2 separate regions of the Homo sapiens genome follow, and region 2 is linked to region 1. The links come from fine-mapping of genetic effects on gene expression. A gene starts in region 1. The other region holds a variant in brackets. All regions are shown on one strand. Distances are from middle to middle.

What was found. PIP is the estimated chance that this variant, and not a neighbour inherited with it, causes the effect. A credible set is the group of variants that fine-mapping cannot tell apart.
Region 2: its variant is the best candidate, but not a certain one, in a credible set for the expression of INMT-MINDY4 in coronary artery (GTEx, PIP 0.51).

What each region holds. Positions count from the first base shown.
Region 1 is chr7:30,747,402-30,757,372 of GRCh38, forward strand. INMT-MINDY4 (INMT-MINDY4 readthrough (NMD candidate)) reads left to right here and starts at 4,734. Exons shown (of 20, transcript NR_037598.1): 1 at 4,734-4,903; 2 at 6,333-6,537. INMT (indolethylamine N-methyltransferase) reads left to right here and starts at 4,734. Exons shown (of 3, transcript NM_006774.5): 1 at 4,734-4,903; 2 at 6,330-6,537; 3 at 8,021-9,971. The coding sequence starts at 4,750. The coding sequence ends at 8,450.
Region 2 is chr7:30,836,615-30,846,585 of GRCh38, forward strand. It overlaps MINDY4 (MINDY lysine 48 deubiquitinase 4), which reads left to right. Exons shown (of 18, transcript NM_032222.3): 7 at 44-150; 8 at 2,586-2,702; 9 at 4,146-4,234. INMT-MINDY4 (INMT-MINDY4 readthrough (NMD candidate)) reads left to right here. Exons shown (of 20, transcript NR_037598.1): 9 at 44-150; 10 at 2,586-2,702; 11 at 4,146-4,234. Among named protein-coding and RNA genes, the nearest start is that of MINDY4, 70 kb to the left of the region's middle. The variant G/A (reference allele first, on the strand shown) is at 4,609.

The DNA.
Region 1 (9,971 bases):
TACAATGGCACGACAACAGCTCACTGCAGCCTCGACCTCCTAGGCTCAAGTGATCCTCCCACCTCAGCCTCCCAAGTAGCTGCGACTACAAGCATGCACCACCACACCTGGCTAATTTTTTTTTATTTTTTGTAAAGGTGGGGTCTCCCTATGTTGCCCAGGCTGGTCTTGAACTCCTGGACTCAAGTGATCCTCCCACCTTGAGATCCCAAATTGCTAGGTGAGCCACCACGACTGGCCTTATTTTTTATTTCTTCAGGTTTTGAGTTCACAAGAAAACATTTCAACAGAGTGTAGATTTTAATCCATTTTTAAATCATAATTCTTATCATTTTATTGTGTTAAATGTAAATTTTCCTCTTTTCTAAAATTAACAGAGCTCATACTCTGTGGAATTTCAGTTCAGTGAGAAAAGTGTCAATTACATAATAAATGGTGATGGCATAACTACCTATCTGATTGGAAGAAAATAAAATTAGATGTCTACCCAGTTTATTAAAAATGAATTTCAAGCCTGGGCAACATAGCGAGATCCTGCTTCTGCAAAAAAAATTAAAAATTAGCTGAATGGGATGGCGTGTGCCTACAGTCCCAGCTACTCAGAAGGCTGAGGTAGGAGGATTGCTTGTACCCAGGAGTTCAAGGCTGCAGTGAGCTATGATCCCACCACTGCACCCCAGCTTGGGAAACCAAGTAAGATCCTGTCTCAAAAAAAAAATTCATATTGAAATCCAATTAACGTGAATTCTAGGTGGGTTAAAATGATTGGTGACATTGAGGGTCTTATATTTGTCCCAGCATTTCTCATGTCAGAATTGGCCTCTGCCGCTGCACTCTTGCATCTGAAAAGTCTTTGCAGGGCTGTGATCTCCTCACTGTGTGTACCTATCTGGATCGCTTTGTTCTCCTAGCCCTGGGCCAAACTCACTTCTCCATGTCACCAGGAAGGCTCAGGAATGTCAGTTTTGGGGGCTGTTCAAGTAAGGTTGACTTAATTGCTCTCCAGTGCTTGGCAGGTAAGAGACTTGCAGGTTTTCCTTGCTGTAAATAATGTTGTAATTAATACCCCTGTACATTTGCTTTTTCTGTATTTGGATTATTTTTCTGTATTTCTGCATTCTGTATTTTTCTGTATTTTGGATTCCCATACGTAGGATTCCTGGGTCAGAGTTCTAAAAACTTTTAGTATAAATAATTTAGGCAAATAATCACCAAATTTTTTTCCAAAAGGAAAATAGTGCTTTTTCTTTTTAATTTTTTAGGAAAAATTTTTAATTTTTCTCTAACAAAATATGAGATAATGTAATATAATGTAAAATAATAAATGTGGTTTTTTTTTTTCTCTTCAGGCTTTCTTCAATCTAGGTTTAGAAAATCCTCTCTTACCCAGAAGTTTGATAACAATTTGACCATGATAGCTTCTGTGGTTGATTTTTGGAAAGACATTTTAGCCTTTATTTTGGTGTTTTGTGTGAGACGAGGGTCTGAGTAGCTGCTTGCAACTCACCAGAGAAAACAATCTCATTTACACTGGCAAGTTCCCTCTTTGGACTCATTTCTTCACCCCACAGAGCCAGGCAGGAAGAGAAGTAGCAAGGTATCAGGGAGCGTGGAATGCTGAGATGGTAGTTTCCCTAATCTTGAAAAGGAGCTTGATCCTTTTCTTATCTGTCTGACTTTTCAAGTGGTCTTAGTTTCTTGATAGGCAGTTTGAAATTTGCCCCTTTGCTTACTATTGCAACAGAAGTCCTCTTGAATGGAAATTTCCTTGCTCTATTTTAAAAAAATATCACTGTATAGAAAGGTGCCTAAGATGAGGTGCACATTCTTAAAAGGGCCTGAAGCTTAGCCCTGTCATGAACAAAGTTGTCACATTGATGAAGGCAAACCTAAGGATAGTGGTTCTCAACCGGGGACAATTTTGCCTCCCAGGGGACATTTGACAATGTCTGGGGACATTTTTGGTTGTTGTAACTTCGGAGTGTACTGGCATCTAGGGGGTAGATGCCAGAGATGCTGCTAAAAATCCTATGACACAGTTCCGCACCCCCACCCAACAAGGAATTACCTGGCCTGAAGAGCAAATAGTACTGAGGTTGAGAAACTCATTCTTAGAATATATCCGTAAGAGGCTTCACTTTGAGAAGATTGCCATAGTGCTGTTAGGACCCTTGGTTAGGCCAGAGTCACGAGGCATGTAGGGATGGAGAAGGCCTGAGTGGTGGAGAAGCAGGTGGAAGCCAGAGGGTAGAGACTCTGAATGCCAAAGGGGAGTTTGGATTCATTCCTCTGGCAGCAGGAGGCACTGGAGGCCTTGCGTTAGGAGGGGCATCCTCTATCCATCCAAGGACATCCAGTTGCAGCATGATGTGTAGTTCTGGGAAGGATGGTCTCTTCCCGCCCTGTACAGACCCCCTAGATGCTCACGTCCTGCTGCAGGGGCTCTGGGTAATCCCTGGATAGTACATGCATGTCCACGGTTCAACTCCTTAAGTGTTAATGCTGGGCGTCTTCCATGTGCCTCTCCATTCTGCTTTCCATCCTCTCCAGGCTACTGCAAGTGCCAGGAAGCTGACATGTGGACTGTAGTCACCACTCCCTTCCCTCTAAATTTGGCAGGATATTGGAGGAAGGTAGGAGAAGGAGGTCTGGGTATTTATTCTTTAGCTACTCTATTAGTCCGTTTTCATACTGCTAATAAGGACATAACCAAAACTGGGTAATTTATGCAGGAAAAAGGTTTCATGGACTCACTGTTCCACATGGCTGGGGAGACCTCACAATCATGGCTGAAGGCAAGGAGGAGCAAGTCATGTCTTACATGGATGTCAGCAGGCAAAAAGAGAGCTTGTGCAGGGAAAGTCCCCCTTATAAAATGATCAGATTTCAAGAGACTTATTCAGTATCATGAGAACAGCATGGGAAAGACCTGCCCCAATGGTTCAATTACTTCCCACCGGGTCCCTCCCACAACATGTGGGAATTGTGGGAGCTACAATTCAAGATAAGATTTGGGTGAAGACACAGCCAAATCATATCAGCTCTTTTGCTATTGGCTGCTGCAGGAGGCCCTCTCTGCACAGCTCTGTCTCAGTCTCACTGGGATGATGGCTCCTCCATGCTGCTAGCCCTCAGGTTCTGTGATGGTGCTTTCTATGAGTCAACTTGGCTAGGTCATGGTGCCCAAATAGGTGGTCAGTCATGATCCTGGCTGTTTGTGTAAGGGTGTTTTTGGATGAAATTCACATTTAAACTTTGAGTAAAGAAGATCGCCCTCCATAATGTGGGCGGGACTCATCCAATCAGCTGATGGCCCAAGTAGAACAAAAGACTGGCCTTCCCCGAGCAAGAGGGAATTCTGGCAGCAGCTGGTCTTTGGACTTGGACTGCAACATTGGCTTTTCCTGGTCCCACCCTTCAGAGTTTGGACTTACTGGCCTCCACAATTATACAAGCCAATTACTTAAAATAGATCTGATTCTCTCAGTGTACACAAGCTGGGTTCTCTTTCTCTGAAGAACCCTGACTAATAGAGGTACCATATGTCTTCCTTCCACCCTGCCCACAACTTAGTTAGCACCGTGCCTTTATTGCACACTCCTCCAATCATGTAATGCGAGCCCTGCAGTTTCCTGCCTGCTCTGTATGCCTTTTGCAGGCCAGCACGACAGCCGCAGGCCTCCCTGGAGGCTGCCCAGGCACCCGCCCCTTGGAAGCCAGGCCCTGACGACCGCTGGGTGTTCCTGCGTCTGTGGCATCACCCATCTGTTGGGCCCTGTGGATTCAGAATTGTTTGTTTACTTAAAGCCAGAACAAGGCATTCCTGTCCTTCCCACTTTCAGGGCAAGAGGCCTGAACCTCCAGTGTAGCGGATTCATTTCTGTCCGGTTTGTGGCCAAGTCAGAGCCATTTCCTAGTGCCAAAAACAGAGACTGAGCTTTTTTCTGTCTGTGGGAGATTTTACAACCCAGTCCCATTTCAAAGAGAAGACTGAGGCCAGGAGTGTCTTACCCGGAGTAGCCAGGTGAGTCAGTGGCCAGGAAGCCAGGACCCCTCTGACAGTTTATGCTTTATGACCGGGCGCCCTTGTTCTCATTCATGGAGATTGACGACAATTTCTGCTCTTCTCCCAGTGACCTGCACAGTGATGCCAAGTCAGCCATTCTGCTCTGCCTCCTGGGGTCTGAACTGTGTTCTCCAGCAGGGATGGGGGATGCATGAAGCTGCACCCACTGCCTGGCCTAGAGAGAGCCACTGGGCCCCAGTGACCACCAGGCGACAAGATGGGGATCTCACTGTGCACTCAGGTCACAACACCTGTGACTTAGAGGAGTGACTTTGGTCCTTACAGTCAGTGAAGTGGGCACGCAGGTGGGGAAACATAGGTCTGACACCTACTTGGAGGCCACAGAGCAGCATGTGGCTGCCAGGGCTGAGAGTTGCACCCAGGGCTGGGCACCATCAATTGCCTTTGACGGACATGGGTTGGTCCCTAGAGGCAGCAGGGCCAGGGCGGCTGCAGCCCCAGCTGTCATAGCTCTGGGGTTGGGGAAACCTCAGGTGTGTCAGTGTGGCTGGGAGGTGGTGAGACATGCACTGCCTTCTGCATCCCCCTAGAAGGAGAAGCTCAAGGAAAGGCATACTTGGGAGGAGCCATGGGATGAGGCTGGAATGCTGGGGGTGGAGCCTGGAGAGCTTGGAGCCCTCATAAGACCTGATAGCAAGGAGGGGGCACATTTCAGGGACACCATGAAGGGTGGCTTCACTGGGGGTGATGAGTACCAGAAGCACTTCCTGCCCAGGGACTACTTGGCTACTTACTACAGCTTCGATGGCAGCCCCTCACCCGAGGCCGAGATGCTGAAGTTTAACTTGGAATGTCTCCACAAGACCTTCGGCCCTGGTGAGCAGAGGGTGGCCCTTCCCCTTGAGCCTCTCTCCAAGGAACCTGGATGGGGATGGGGAGACGGTGTCCTGGGGGCAGTCTGGTCTCCTCTAGGGGTTTTTGGGGATGGGCTGGGGGAGCTTCTGGGGCCCTGCCCCCTCTCTTTGGGCAGCTGTTATGCTGGAGGTTGAGTCTGTCTCCCCATGGCTCAGGAGCTCTGTGCCAGCTGAAGAGCACAGCCCCGTGCAGTTCCCACACTGCTCTCCATTAGCCCCTAGGTCTTTGGGGTGGAGCAGAAAAGGCTCTCCAGGTCATCATCAAGTTCAGTCCTGACCTTGCACAGCCAGGCCTCTGGGGCCCCCAGAAGGCCAAGGGCAAACAGCAGGGTTGCAGTGGGACGGGATCGCCTGTGCCCGGAGTGTGCAGCCTAGATGTGTCTGTGATGAGGACCTGGAAAAGCCCTGCCCTGGGACAAGGATTGCTAGGTGGGGTCTCAACCCTGAGCAAGGGGCTCAGACCCCAAGGACCTCAACTGAGCCATCTGCACGATGGATGGTGACTTCTGCCTGTCTCCCGATGATCACTGCCCTCCCCATGGTGACCCCATGATTTGATTGTGTCTTCTAAACTCAAGCAGCCGTGTCCTCACTTTAGGCACTTGACTGGGGAACAGTAAGGGTGAGTCTCCTGGTGGTCTGTGGGATAAGAGGGGGTTAAAAGGCTGCTGAGCCTGGAGGAGCAGGCCGGTGTGGGAGGCAGAAATCAGAGAACAGCCGGACTGGGTGTGACCAAGCTTGGAAGGCCAAGTGATGGCCCCACGCCAGGGCTCCAGACAGAATGTTGGAAGTCATGCTTCATTCCAGCTTCCAGGTGACCCTGGATTCACTCCTGGGGCCATCTTCCCAGATCATCTCCTTAGCCCCGGCTTCCTATTCCTGTATGCTTTCACCCCTCCCTCCTCCAAGGAACAAGAAACCCATCCAGGAAGGGCTGGACTTCCAGGGGAGGCTTCCAGCTCCCAGTCAGCCTGAAACTTAAAGGGCCACTGACCCCAGCATGTCCTCTCTGAACTCTCCAGCCCGAATCTTCCCCAGAGCAGGGCTTGGGCCTCTGTTCTCTGTCCCAGAAATATTATACTCTTGGCTTATGTTCTTGACTGAAAGGTATTGGGCTAATTGTTTAACCTTTTACAGACTCAGTTTTCTAATCTGCAAAATGAAAATAGTGATAGCAGTCACTACACAGGGTAGTTTTGAGGTGTAAATGGAAATTAACACATATAAAATATTTGGCATGAGGCTTGGCTTACAGGGAGCTGCCAATCCGTGATAACCACCAAGCACGTTTGCCCCTTGGGTAAGACCAGGGTGTGTGTCCTCATCCCTGTGTCTGCCTTGGGTCTCGTTTCTTTTACCCATCCATTACCAGTCTTTCCCTCCCACAGGAGGCCTCCAAGGGGACACGCTGATTGACATTGGCTCAGGTCCTACCATCTACCAAGTTCTTGCTGCCTGTGATTCCTTCCAAGACATCACTCTCTCCGACTTTACCGACCGCAACCGGGAGGAGCTGGAAAAGTGGCTGAAGAAGGAGCCGGGGGCCTATGACTGGACCCCAGCGGTGAAATTCGCCTGTGAGCTGGAAGGAAACAGGTAGGGGTGCAGAGGTTGGGGAGGGGGTTCCCAGTCAACCTTCTTTCTCAGAAGTCTCCCTGGCCTCTTTGTTGTCTCTGACATTTTCAGGACAGTAGGACCTTCAGGTATAGGACCAGATGTCCTGTGGTGGGGATAGAGTAGATGGAATCCCAAGTTTCAGGATTACAGCAGTTTTAGGGGCAAGACTCTGATCACAGGACTATGTTGAGGTGTGATATAGTCAAGTATGAACACTGAAAACCAGATGATTTTCATCTCTTCCTTCTTCTCTTCCTTCCTTACCCTCATCTATATATCTACCTCTCTATCTTCTATGTATCTAACTATCCGTGCATATCCATCCATCCGTCCACCCACCGGTTCATCCATTCATCCATCCATCCATCCATCCATCCATATTCATGCATCCACCCACCCATCCATATCCATCCATCCATCCAGCCAGCCAACTAGCCGTTCACCTATCCATCCATCTATCCATCCGTCCATTCATCCATCCATCAATATTCATCCATCCACCCACCCATCCATTCATCCATCCATATCCATCCATCCATCCATCCATCCACCCATTCATATCCATCCATCCATCCACATACATCCGCCCAGCCATCCATCTATCCATCCATCCACCCATCCATCCATATCCATCTATACATCCATCAATCCATCCACCCATCCATCCATATCCATCTATCCATCCATCCATCCATCCATCCATCCATCCATCCATCCATGTCCATCCACATTCATCCACCCACCCACCCATCCATCCATCTTTCCTTCTTCCCTCTATTGTCTGTACCTGTGTGACTGACTATATAATGTATAATGACGTGAACTCACCACCCAACCTGAGTACTCGAATATAATAAAGACTTACCTGTGCTTCTCTGTGACTCCTTGCCTCTGCCTTTCCCAACCTCGGGTAATCACTAATATGGATTTTATGCTTATCATTCCCTTTTTCAAAAAATTTTTTTCTTGCATACTTATGTATATCTAAACAATCTATAATTTAGTTTTAGTCGCCTTTGAGCTTTATAGCAGAGTAATTTGCTCTGTGTCATTTGCGATTTGCTTTTCATCACTCAAAATTATATTTTTAAGATAGCTATATTCATACATTATCTGTAGTAAATTCATTAATTCATTCATCCATCCATCCAATAATGTTTGTTAACTGCCCTCTCTGTGCTTGGGGTGGCTTTGTCCATCCTGGGGATTAAGGGAAGGGGGCTCACATGGAATCAGAGAGAGAAAGTTTCCTATAATTGTTCTAGCCATTCTCCCTAACCATTTTTCTTTGGGAGAAACTGAGGCTCAGATTGAAGAAGAGCCTGCTGTCAGGTCACACAGGGACTCAGGGACAGCAATCCTTTGGGGATCCAGAGATCATCTCCATCTGCTGGTCACAGTGGACTGAGAGTTCCCTTCAGAACCTCAAAGGGCCTCCCCGACTCCCTCTCTCTCTCTGCAGCGGCCGATGGGAGGAGAAGGAGGAGAAGCTGCGGGCAGCGGTGAAGCGGGTGCTCAAGTGCGATGTCCACCTGGGCAACCCGCTGGCCCCGGCTGTGTTGCCTCTCGCCGACTGTGTGCTCACCCTGCTGGCCATGGAGTGTGCCTGCTGTAGCCTTGATGCCTACCGCGCTGCCCTGTGCAACCTTGCCTCACTGCTCAAGCCGGGTGGCCACCTGGTGACCACTGTCACGCTTCGGCTCCCGTCCTACATGGTGGGGAAGCGTGAATTTTCCTGCGTGGCCCTGGAGAAAGAGGAGGTGGAGCAGGCTGTCCTGGATGCTGGCTTTGACATTGAACAGCTCCTACACAGTCCCCAGAGCTACTCTGTCACCAATGCTGCCAACAATGGGGTCTGCTTCATTGTGGCTCGCAAGAAGCCTGGGCCCTGAGCCAGGAGGGCCAGCCAGAGGTCTGGTCAGGCTGTGAGGCCTTGGCCATCTGTATGCTAGAGAGGGGTGAGGAATGGATACTGTCTAACAGTCTCTGATTTCAACACTAACATTCCATCTTCTGAAATTCTGAGATTCTAACATCCTTGTTTTAGAATTCTAAGTTTCCAACATTCCTCATTCTAGGATCCTAGGAGTGGAATTTTCCATTTTCTAATATACTAAGCCTTACAGCTATCTTAGATGCGATCTGACTCCTGTGTGACTGTGGAGCACCCAGGGACGTGGTTTTAGAGTCTACCTAATATGTTAAGGACAAGGAAACCTCTGAGTCTACCTAATATGTTAAGGACAAGGAAACCTCTGGACAGTGGTATATTGGGGAATTTTTTTTTTTTTTTTGAGACGGAGTCTGGCTCTGTCACCCAGGCTAGAGTGCAATGGCACGATCTCGGCTCACTGCAAGCTCTGCGTCCTGGGTTGACGCCATTCTCCTGCCTCAGCCTCCCGAGTAGCTGGGACTACAGGAGCTCGCCACCACACCCAGCTAATTTTTTTTTTTTTTTTTTTATTTGAGACGGAGTTTCGCTCTGTCGCCCAGGCTGGAGTGCAGTGGCGCGATCTCGACTCACTGCAAGCTCCGCCTCCCGGGTTCACGCCATTCTCCTGCCTCAGCCTCCCGTGTAGCTGGGACTACAGGCACGCGCCACCATGCCCGGCTAATTTTTGTATTTTTAGTAGAGATGGGGTTTCACCGTGTTAGCCAGGATGGTCTCGATCTCCTGACCTGGTGATCCACCCACCTTGGCCTCCCAAAGTGCTGGGATTACAGGCGTGAGCCACCGCACCCAGCCAGGGGGAATGTTCTATAACCAGCTCTGTAAAGGAAAAGCACTGATGTGTGGTAGTCACCAATTTCTGTGGTGTAAATACTCCCACCATGGTTGATTTCAAGCCACCAGTGGTTTAATAACCAGCTCATAAATCTCCTAAATATTTTACAGTTGACTCTCATGAGCTGATTGGAGTCAGCTGGAACATACCACTGCCTCTAGACTAAGGTCAGCAGATTTAGCAAATACAGACTGCCCCAGTTCATTGAATTTTAGATAAATGAAATAAATCTATAAGGTTAAGTATGTCCCCAGAACTGCATGGAACATGCTTAATCTAAACAATGATTTGTTGTTCACCTGAAATTCAAATTTAGCTGGGTGTCCTGTATTTCATCTGGCAACCCTACTTCAGACCCAGGTGTAAGGTACATGGATGTGCTTTGGTCAAGGAATAGGCCAAGGCAGAGATCCATGCCTGCATGACTCAGTGGGTTTGGTGCACAGGCACACACCTCCACTTGTTATATAACCTGTTTGTGTAAGTTCATACTTGGTCTGAGCCACTGTTGTCTGTAAAAGGTAATTGTCCTGCTAATGCTGTACAGGGGCTCTTGGGGTTCGGCTCAGCTCAACATGGCTTGACATGGTGGGCACACTGGCGCCCAGTAAGAGAGAGAGAGAGCCA
Region 2 (9,971 bases), 89 kb after region 1:
TGAGTCATAACGAAGGGCTCACATGGCCATGGTTTTCTTTCAGAGGATGTGGAGGATGAGTTGATAAGGGAAGAGGTCATCCTGTCGCCAGTCCCATCAGTGCTCAAGTTGCAGACAGCATCAAAACCAATTGACCTCTCAGTAGCAAAGGTAAGTGTAAGGAGACTCCTGGGTTAAATGTGTCTTGATTTGAATGGATATAGATGGCGTGATTTTGGTGTTTCTGCCCCAATCCAGCTCATTGTAATCTCTTGGTCATTGTTGAAATGGAAATTTGGGTGTGATGTAGAAGAAAATGTGAACCGAGAGTCAGGAAAACTGCAGTCTAGTCCTTGCAGCTCTCGTTCCCTCTCCAAGACAAAAGGTGAGGGAGGAGGTTATGTCCTCCCCTCCAAATACCGTGGGAATAGAGCTGCTTCATCATGTCCCTGTGGGCACCGTTAGGGTGTGATGGAAATGGTCCAGTTGTCCCCATTAGAGCAGCGCTGCTCCTGTACTGGTCTCCTAAGCCCTGGCCAGGTTGCAGTGAAGGAAGGACAGGGAGGTGTTAACAATTCTTCAGCACTGTTCAGGTGTACTCCCTTGGCCACTTAAAGGGCCCCGTGGTCACAGGGGACCAGGAGCAGGTTCCTGGCCACAGCAGCCTCTTCTGCAGGGGTGTCTGGGATTGCTCACCATGCTCGGCTACCAGGGTGGCCTCACCACTCCCGTGACCAGAGGCTCCTGCAGGATGGAATGTCATTCCCGCTGTCCTCTTCTGGCCTTTCACCAAGATCCAGGAGGGAAAAATAAAACTCCTAGGGACACAGCTGACTTCCTTCTCTTCCTACTTACTACATATTTACTCAGCATACAAATCAAAGAGCAAAATATTTTTCTAGAGGTTTTGTCCTTTCGTTTCCTTCCCCTCTCCTCCCCTCTCCCCTTCTCTCTCATATCTCCCCCTTCTTCCATTCTCTCTTTTGAAGCTACAGAGGGTCAGATACACTTAAATGGCCCCAAACCTGGGAGGAGGTGCTCTGTCATCTGTCACCATGCAATGAGTCTTTGCAGAGCGCACTTATGCTTGGGGCAGACCCCTCAGGCTCCTAAAGACTATGCAGCAGTAGCGTCTCCAAAAGCAACTGGAAAAAGTGAGGCCTGCAGAGAAAACAGGAGGGCCCAGGGCACGTGGCCTCTGGAAAGCAGAGTCCAGGTTCCCAGGCTCTGTTGACCACACTGTGCCTAGCGGGAGCTGTCATTCTGAGCCCTGACAGATGAATCCACACATCCTTTCTCCTGTGTGCCACCAGCCCACATTTGATGACATGTGGACAAATGCTTCTGTCAAAGAGATTTTTCCTTATATTTAATGAAAAGGAAAAAAAGAGCTGATTCTGGTGGAAAATAATGAGTCTGTAGGAAAGGTCTGACCCAGAGAGGGGGTACAGGGAAGTGGCTGTAGAATCCACCTGCTGGTCTTGGGGCTCACTCAAGGCTTCAGAGACCCCCTCAGATGTAAAACCATGGCAGAGAGAGGGTGGGCCCATCATGAGGGGAGTGGGCGGGGACCTGCTGCCTTTCTCATCTGAGGGCCTGTCCATGGGGAAGGGATTGACCATTCTGGGGGCTCTGGAGGGTGATGCGTGGGTTGATGGGAAATGAACAGTGAACTCATTATCAGCCAGAAGTCTGGAGAAGACAGCCGTGAGAAAGTAGAGGGGCTGCCTTGAGAGGTGGTGGGAACCCCTTCACTGGGGGGTTGGGATGGTTCAAGCAGAGTTCACGGGGGACCACTCATGGGCGGCATCACAGAGGAGGTTCTTACGCATGGTAGAGAGTTGTACTAGACCAGGAGTTGGCAGGTGTTTTCTGTAAAGGGCTCAATAGTGTATTTTTGGCTTTGCTGGCAGTGTGATCTCTGCTGCACCTATTCAACTTTGCCATCATGGTATGAACACAGCCATGGGTGGTATGGAAACAAATGGGCTTTGCTGTGTGCCAGTAGAACATTATTTACAAACAGGTGGTGGGGGCAGATTTGGCCTGTGGGTCACAGTTTAGTAACCCTGCACTAGAGCACTGGCTCTCAAACCCGGCACACTGTGGAATCACCTGGGGGAATCTTAAAACTACTGATACTGGAGTCTCACCCTCAGCAACTGGGGTTTAATTGGCTGGTGTGTTTTCTGAACATCAAGATTGTTTTTAGGAACTTCGTATCCTAGATGGTTCTAATGTGAGGTCGAGTTTGAAAACCCCTAGTCTTGCCTGTGGAAGATCAGAGGACCTCCAAGATCCCTTGCAAATCTAAAATTTTGTTTCTCAAGGCCCCTGTAAGGAGCTTACAAAGATTTTGGCCCATGTCAGCACAGGCTAGCTTGGTTTAAAGATGTTCCAGAGGTAAGACCCTCATTATTGAGTTTCTCTTTCATCAAATATAAGAAGAATGAGCCTGAAAAATAAAAAGAGAAGAGATGAACCATGCTAGAAAATGGGCTTCCCTGCTAGAATTCAAGAACAACTTCTGCAGGAATATGCACACTGAACATCGTATTGTTGCTTGCTTTTAAAACAACCAGTAAAACTCTCTCTTCTTTTTATAGGAAATAAAGACCCTTCTGTTTGGTTCCAGCTTTTGCTGTTTCAATGAAGAATGGAAACTTCAGAGTTTTTCCTTTAGTAACACAGCCTCATTAAAATACGGCATAGTGCAGAACAAGGCAGGTTGCTCCTAGGTTTCCTTGGGACCTTTCTGCTGGGCCATCATGCATAGGGGTGGGTGTACCTCCCAGTTTTGGTTAATCCTGTGAGCATTAGCTGAGCTATTCTGGACCAGCCAGCCCCACATGTGCTGAGTTGTCACTTGGTGCAGGCACTTCAGATGTGGCTGGTGCAGCAAGAGCTGGGGAATAAGACCCTCTGCTTTGGAGATGTTAAAATTGAACATGGATTTAAGGAGCACTTGCTGTGAGTGGTGCAGGTGCTGGGATCCTCAGCAGGAGAGAGAGCAGTAGGAGGCCTTCAGTCTGCTTGGGGCCACTAGAGGGGCCTTCTTAGGCTGATCATTGAGAGATTCACAGGATTTTGCAGATAGAGCTGGAGAAAGGGCACTCCAGGCAGGTGGCAGCATTAATGAAGGGGAGGCGGTTTGAAAGTCTAGGGGCTGCATGAAAAGGCAGAGGGATCAAGTGTGCAGAGCAAGTGCTTGAAGAGAAGGATGTAATAGAAGCTGGGCCAGCGGAGGCCAATGGTTGCAGGCCTAGAACATGGCTTATACCCAGTTCCCACATTATACTCATGGGCAGAAAATAAGCTAAACCCAGGATCAAGAATCAGCAGTTGAGCAGGGCAGCTTGGTCCGGTTCAGTTTCTTAAGCCCCAGGAACCTCCCCTGCCCCACACTGCCTGAGGTCGAGCCCCAGGACCACCAGCTTCTGTCCCTCCCTCTTGTGGCCAAACTCAGCTGGTCTTCATGAGCACCCCAACCTGCCGTTCAGACAATCCTTAAACCTGGATGAGGTCTGTTTGTGTTGTTCAGTCCCACTAGCCTTTGCCAATGTGTCCCAGGAGTCAGATCCTGTGCTAAGCCCCGTGATGCCTACAGAGATGAGCTCCTCAAGAAGCCTCTGCACCACAGGGTGAGAAAGGACAAAGATACACCTAATGTGGTGCTGAAGCAGGCCACAAGTGGGGCAGAAGAGAGCGCAGAGCTCATGTAACCACAGGCTGTTGAAGGGGCTCACTGCCAGCCGAGATGGTCAGGAAAGGCTTCTTGGAGGAGGAGAACTTTAGGATGGGCCTTGAAGGCTGGGTAGACAATTAACACCCTCAACCTGTAGACACAGAAACATTTCCCTAGATGATAGAAAACCTATGGTGATGTCCTTGGCTTCACAGCTGACTGGTTATGAGGAGTCACTTTCCTCCCATGACACACTGACAACTGGCCCCTTCCCCTAGGAGTGGACAAAGGGTCTTGTCACTCCCTCTCTGTGGCCCAAGGTTAGTGTGTTGTAGAAGCAGTTGCCACATCAGAGGCCCTTCTGTTGCAGAAGGCAGGGCCCCTTTACTCTATCAGGTGGGTTCTGGGGTGGGTTTGGGTGAAACCAAAAACTCTGCCCCAGGCCAGTTCTCACTGGCAGCAATGGTCTCATTCTTTGCAGGGTGGTCCTTGCGGAGTCCTGGCAGCTGTCCAAGGCTGTGTCCTACAGAAACTCCTGTTTGAAGGAGATAGCAAAGCCGACTGTGCTCAGTAAGTCAGTGCTCTTTCTGGCAATATCTTATTTTCCCAAGTCTTCCCCAGAGTGTCCAGAAAAAACAAGCAAGGAAGCATGTGTGTTCCCTGATATTTCCTGTCTTCTGCAGGTCAAGAAAGGAGAGGTTAATGGCAGCTAGCTGACAAGGCCTGCGCAGACCAGTGTTAAGGGGACTTGTGCGCGTTTGTTTCTGAAAGCGGGGAGGGTTCTCAGTGGTGCTCCACCTGGGAAGGGGCTGCAGGAACGACATCAAAACCAATTTCCCTCCTCAGACGGCAAGCTGCCCGAATCCCTTCCACCCACCAGGTCGACCTGCCGACCTTTCGACTGCGTCCGGGCCTCCCTTCCCTCCCCACGCTATCTCCCCTCT[G/A]CCAACATTCATAACCACACATTCCAGGCCGCCCCACAGATCATCACTTCCACTCCCTGCAGCCGTTCAGTTTCCATTTCACACATTAAGTGTTTGCACATGAGCACCTTATTCTCATTCATTCAGCACACATTCCTGGAACATCTCTGTGCAGGCACAAATGATACAGGGGAGAATTAGATGAGTTCTGTCCTCTCCAGAAATGCTCCATGAGGTTGAGAGGCAGATAGAAAACCCCAATCCCATACCATCGTTGGTGCCAAGATGAAAGGATTGGCAGGGCACTGGTGGGGCTGGAGGCGAGGCCTTCTTGAGGAAGTGACCTGCCTCTCTTTCCCTCCCTGCAGGCCCGGTTACCAGCTTGTACCGAGTCACCCTCAGAGCTACAGAACTTCTGGCAATTGGCCTTTTTTAAAAAAAAAAAATTTAGTTAAAATATAACATATACACAGTAGTTATACTATGTGTGTTCTGCTCAATGAATTATCACAAAACCGCACACCCATGAACACATTGTCTAGATTAAGAAAAAATATTTCTAGTACTCCAGAAGCATCCTCTGGTACCCAGCAGGTACCCCTATTCTCCTGAAGTTATATTAATAATTAAATGGATTTTAAAACCATAGCTTAATCTTGCCAGTTCCTGAACTTTATTGAAAGGTACTTGTTCTTTGAAATAAGCATTTGAGAATCTTTTTTAAAAAAGCCTAGGTGTTACCCAGACAACAAGACCCATTTCCCATGCATTCCTGGGAACGACACTGTTCACTAGGAGAGCCATCCAGCCAAGCTTGGTACTCCAATGAAACACATTTCACCAGCACGGATGATTTTTCCTTAGTTAGGGTTCAAGTGAAGGTGGCTTTTCATGCTTGGCATCTTAAAATTTTTTCCAATGGTTTTGCACAATAATAATTGAGGTGTTTCCTCTCCAACCAAAAATGCTAATCAGAAGCACAGCAATGTAACACTTCCGTGGCAAGATCTCACCTGTCCTTGTTCTTCTCTCTGCTTCCCCTCCCCTTTGCTCTCCGGTCGATCCTTCGTGGCTCTTGTCTGTACAGGATCATGCCCCACTGCCTGCTCTGGAAGTTCAGCCCCACAAAGGGCTGGGAGGTTTGAATGTCATGGGCAGAGACCCTGCCATCAGCTCTCCCTGGTGGGCTCAACACAGTCCTGTATGCTCAGGAATGCTCCTGACTGGGTGGAACTTTGCTAAGTAAGAACCGCTGGCTGCCCTCAGAGGGTACAGGGATACTGAGCACATATGCACCTACCTACCTACCCACCTTCCTTCCTTGCACTGAAAAAAATGTGCAGAGTGTGCTTAGCAGGTCCTCAGCAGGGATACAGGGCTGAACAAGACACATACAGGTGCCCTCATGGCACCTATGATTGAACAGGAGAGCCAGACAGGAACAGGTGGTTACAGGGGACATGCACGGTGCTAAGGGTTCATCTGGACATGAAGTGGCTCAGGGCGGGCAGCCTGGTGGACTGACATTTTCATCTTACGGAGATAGGAAGGATGGACAGAACCCCTGATTCCCCTTCATATGCATCCTTGCACACTCTTATTCCCCCTCAAATTGTTTTCACCTTCCCAGCAAATATTCTCAAACACCTTCCTGAGCCCTCAGGCTCTGTGCTCAGGCGCTGTGCCTGCTGGCTCCTCTCATTGCACAGAGGCCACATCTTTGTGGAGGCCTCCTGGGACCTCCCCCATTAAGATAAAACCAGGCCCTGCCTCTAATAACTCCACTGCCAGCTGGTGCTCTTGCTCATCGATATGGTTACCTGTCCACATCTGCCGCCACCTACTACTGCCCACCCCACTCCAGAACACAAGCCCCGTGAGAACAGGGACCTTCCTGAGCTGGTTCACAGCCAGGGCCCTGGCATCCAGCCCTGTGTCTGGTCCACAGAAGAGGCCCTCAGAATTTTTGTTGAGAGAACACATGGACAAATGAATGAGTTATCCAAACAGGGAGGGGAGGCAGAATGGTATTCCAGTAAAGAGAACAAGATGTGCAAAGCCTGTGGGCAGTGAGAGGAGTGGAGGAGTCACTGGGGGTGGTTAGGGCAGCATTTGGAGGAGGAGGGTGGGAGCTGGGGTAGTGGCAGGTCAGCGCCAGGCTGCCAGAGGGGCCTTGGGTGCTGCCAGCTGCTTGGATCAAGCCTTGGCCCTTGCAGGAGATTGTCTCTAAACTCATTTCAGCCTAGTGCTCCTTCAGAGTTGCTTTTGAACTTCACCGTGGGCTTCTGGGGGAACTTGTGGATGGTTTCCCAACAGTCAGGACAAGGCATTTAAGCATGTTCCAGGAAGAGCCGACTCTGCTCAGGGCACAAGGCAGACTTGGTTTTTGTTACCCCACCCCCAGGCCACATCCATGGGGTGGAAGCCCACTGCTGTCCACACCAGGGAGGGAAGCCAGGCCTTAGAAGGCAAAAGCCATCCAGGTTGGGATCCCAAGGGGGTGTCTGGGTAGAAAGAAAACTGCTAAGCTGGAGGAGTGAGGTTTTCTATCTGTCGTTGCCGGCCAGGCAGGTACCTCCTAGCTGCAGGCCAAGGATGGTGCAGCCCAGTGGGTCCTGGGGCTGTGGGGGTGGGCAGAGGAGGAGGGAAGAAGGAGCTGCTGGCCTGTTGGGGGTCATCATGTGTGGAGGTGTGCCAGGTGCCAAGGAGCCAGACCTTATGGGGGGGCCTGCCTGGCTGGACCAGAGGAGGTCTGTGCCATGCAGCTGGGAGAGCACGGCCTGCTGGCCAGGGCCACCTTCTCCAGCGAGCCTGGAAGGATTCATGGTGTAGGAGAGTGACCTCGCTTTTGTTTGGAGCCCTGCAACTCTGGGTGCTGCTTGTAGCCCACCCCCTGGACTGGGTGCTGCTTGTAGCCCACCCCTACCGGCTGCTGCCCCATCACAGAGGTGCTGTGCTGTGCAGGTTGAGTGAAGCGGTCTGACTTCCTGCTCCCACAGACCTCCTAGCAGGCCTCAGGGGACATTCTTCAGACTCCCCTGAGAGGGAGGAGTGGAGAGCCTGGCTTAGTTATGGAGCTCGCTGAAAAAGCCTCAGGGGACTCAGGCAGAGCTGTCACAGGGAGACAAGCTGGGGAGGCCCAGAGACCGTCTCCCCTGACCCCAGCAAGGACTCGCCTCCTCCTGGTGATGGGCCCTGGGCAGCAGGCACCAGATGCCCTCCCCAGCCCTCCCACCCCAGTCTCCTCCCACTCTCCTGCACTGGTCCTGCCTCAGGTCGCAGGTAGATAGGGGTTGGGGAGGAAGAACCCTCCTGAGGACAGGTTAGGGCTTCTGTCAAGTGAAGACCCGGAAGACCAGGGAGTGAGGGCCTGCTGTCGGGGGCCTGGAGAAGAGAAGGGAGGTGGAGTCCATGTCACTGCTTTGCCAAGGCCCTGAAGGTCAGAGGCTACAGAAGGTTGTCCTTGCCAAGTGGGTGGGTGTCTAGCCTGTAGATGTTGGTGCCCAGGCTGGGAGGGGGAATGCCTGGCTTTGTGCCCCTCAGCCACCCTGGGAGAGGGGAAGGGTGCTGAAGAGGGTACCAGACCGGGTCAGGACCTGGATTATGGTTGTGTGGAAACAGAGCATCACTTTCTCCGTTTGTGAACTAGGAATAGTCATCTCTGGCTTGCCTAAATTGGACTCAGTAAGAAAATGCAAAGTCCTTTGTAAATCTTCAAGGGCTCTATAAGTGAGTAGGGCCATTGAACTCAGCCTGCCATGGTACAGATGGGGAAACTGAGGCCCAGAGAGGGAAAGATGGTTGTTCAGGGTCACATCTGGCATCCCTGGCAGAACCAAGACTGGCACCTGGTGCCCCTGTGTCACATTGTGCTGCTGTGCCCTGCAAGAGGCATGGAGCAGTGGGGGCCCAGGGAGGCCAGGAGGAAGGCTGAGGGCTCTGAGTTTTAGACTTCCATCGCTGGACACCCACACAGACTCCTAGGGACCAAGGGGTGGCTCTGTTCATGAACGGCTTCACGGTGGAACCTCCCCTTTGGCTTTAAGTTAGAAAAGATGAACACAGAAGAGTACAGAGAGCAACATAGCAAACACCTACAGAGCCCCTGCCCCACACGAGCAAAGGGAAACACTGGGTCACGTGGGCAGGAACCTCTCTCAGTCCTCAGCTCCTCGGTTTCATTGACTTATATAGTTTTCACATTGATTGATTGTGTTATTGATGTTCCTTCAAAAGCCATGTGTGAATGGTTGGGTGTGAGGCCTCAGCACTCCCTTTTGACTCTGAAATTCTAGGATTTCAGACATGATCCAGCTTAAAAAAAAAAAAAAAAAAGGGCAAGCTCTTCTGTTTTCTTCAGGAACACCACGATGACCTGCCATCAGCTGCCATCTGCTCTGCGGCTCTGGGGAGCTCAGGCCCTGTGGACCCAGAGGCAGCCCCTGCACTTTCCTGCCTGTGTGCGGGGTCTGCCTTGGCCCTGGAGGCCCCCACCTCAGATGTTGCCCACCACATCTGGTGGGGAAATGGTTCTGTGAAAGCAGATGGAGGATGGGATCGCACCCTCCAGGGAAGTCACGCTGAAATAAAGGCATCTTGGCAGTGGTGGTGTTTTTTCTGCAGGACTGTCTGGCTTCATTACGACTCATTCCATCAGGCCGGCAGCCGGCCTCTCCTCAGTCGGGAAGGATGGAGCTGGGCAGCAGTACTTGGTGTTTTTCCACTTGAGAAGAGGCTGTGCCGGCTTGGCTCACAGAAAGAGATGAAGAGCTCTTGATCCCCCTGAAGGCCTGGAGAGAGCCACAGGCCAGGAACGGCCCTCAGAGGCGGGTGCGGATCTGAGAGTCGGGGAATCCAGGAAGTCCTCCTCTCACTTCCACTTCCCCTCTGAAGTTGGGGAATTCGAGGCCCAGATAAGGAGAGGTGCTTGCCCAAGGCCTCTGTGGACATTGGTAGCAGAACCTATGGTCCTGCAGCCCCAGGCCAGCCTTTCTACCCCCTATTGCAGCTTTTGACCCTGAGAGGGAGCAGACAGGGAGCTCCCCCAAATTATAGACTCTGTACATGGCTCCATGGGCACGTCACAGTGGACAGGTGAGGCTATTTTGAGAAAGTTAGGGTAGAAACATCTCTTTCATCTGAAACACTTGGGTAATTTAGGTAAAAGCAGGATGTATTATTCCCTCAAGATCATTTATTTTCCCTATCTCTAGATAAATGTCTTTTTCCTGCACTTCACCTGTGAGGAATTCGACTCTTAAAGAAACTTCTCTTGGTTTAAGAGCCTGGCCAGGTGCCAGCCTCCTGGGAGGAGTCTGACTGATCAGGAAATGCAGACCTGTTTGTCACCTGGGTTCTGCCAGTGAAGGCGTGCGCTGAGCTAT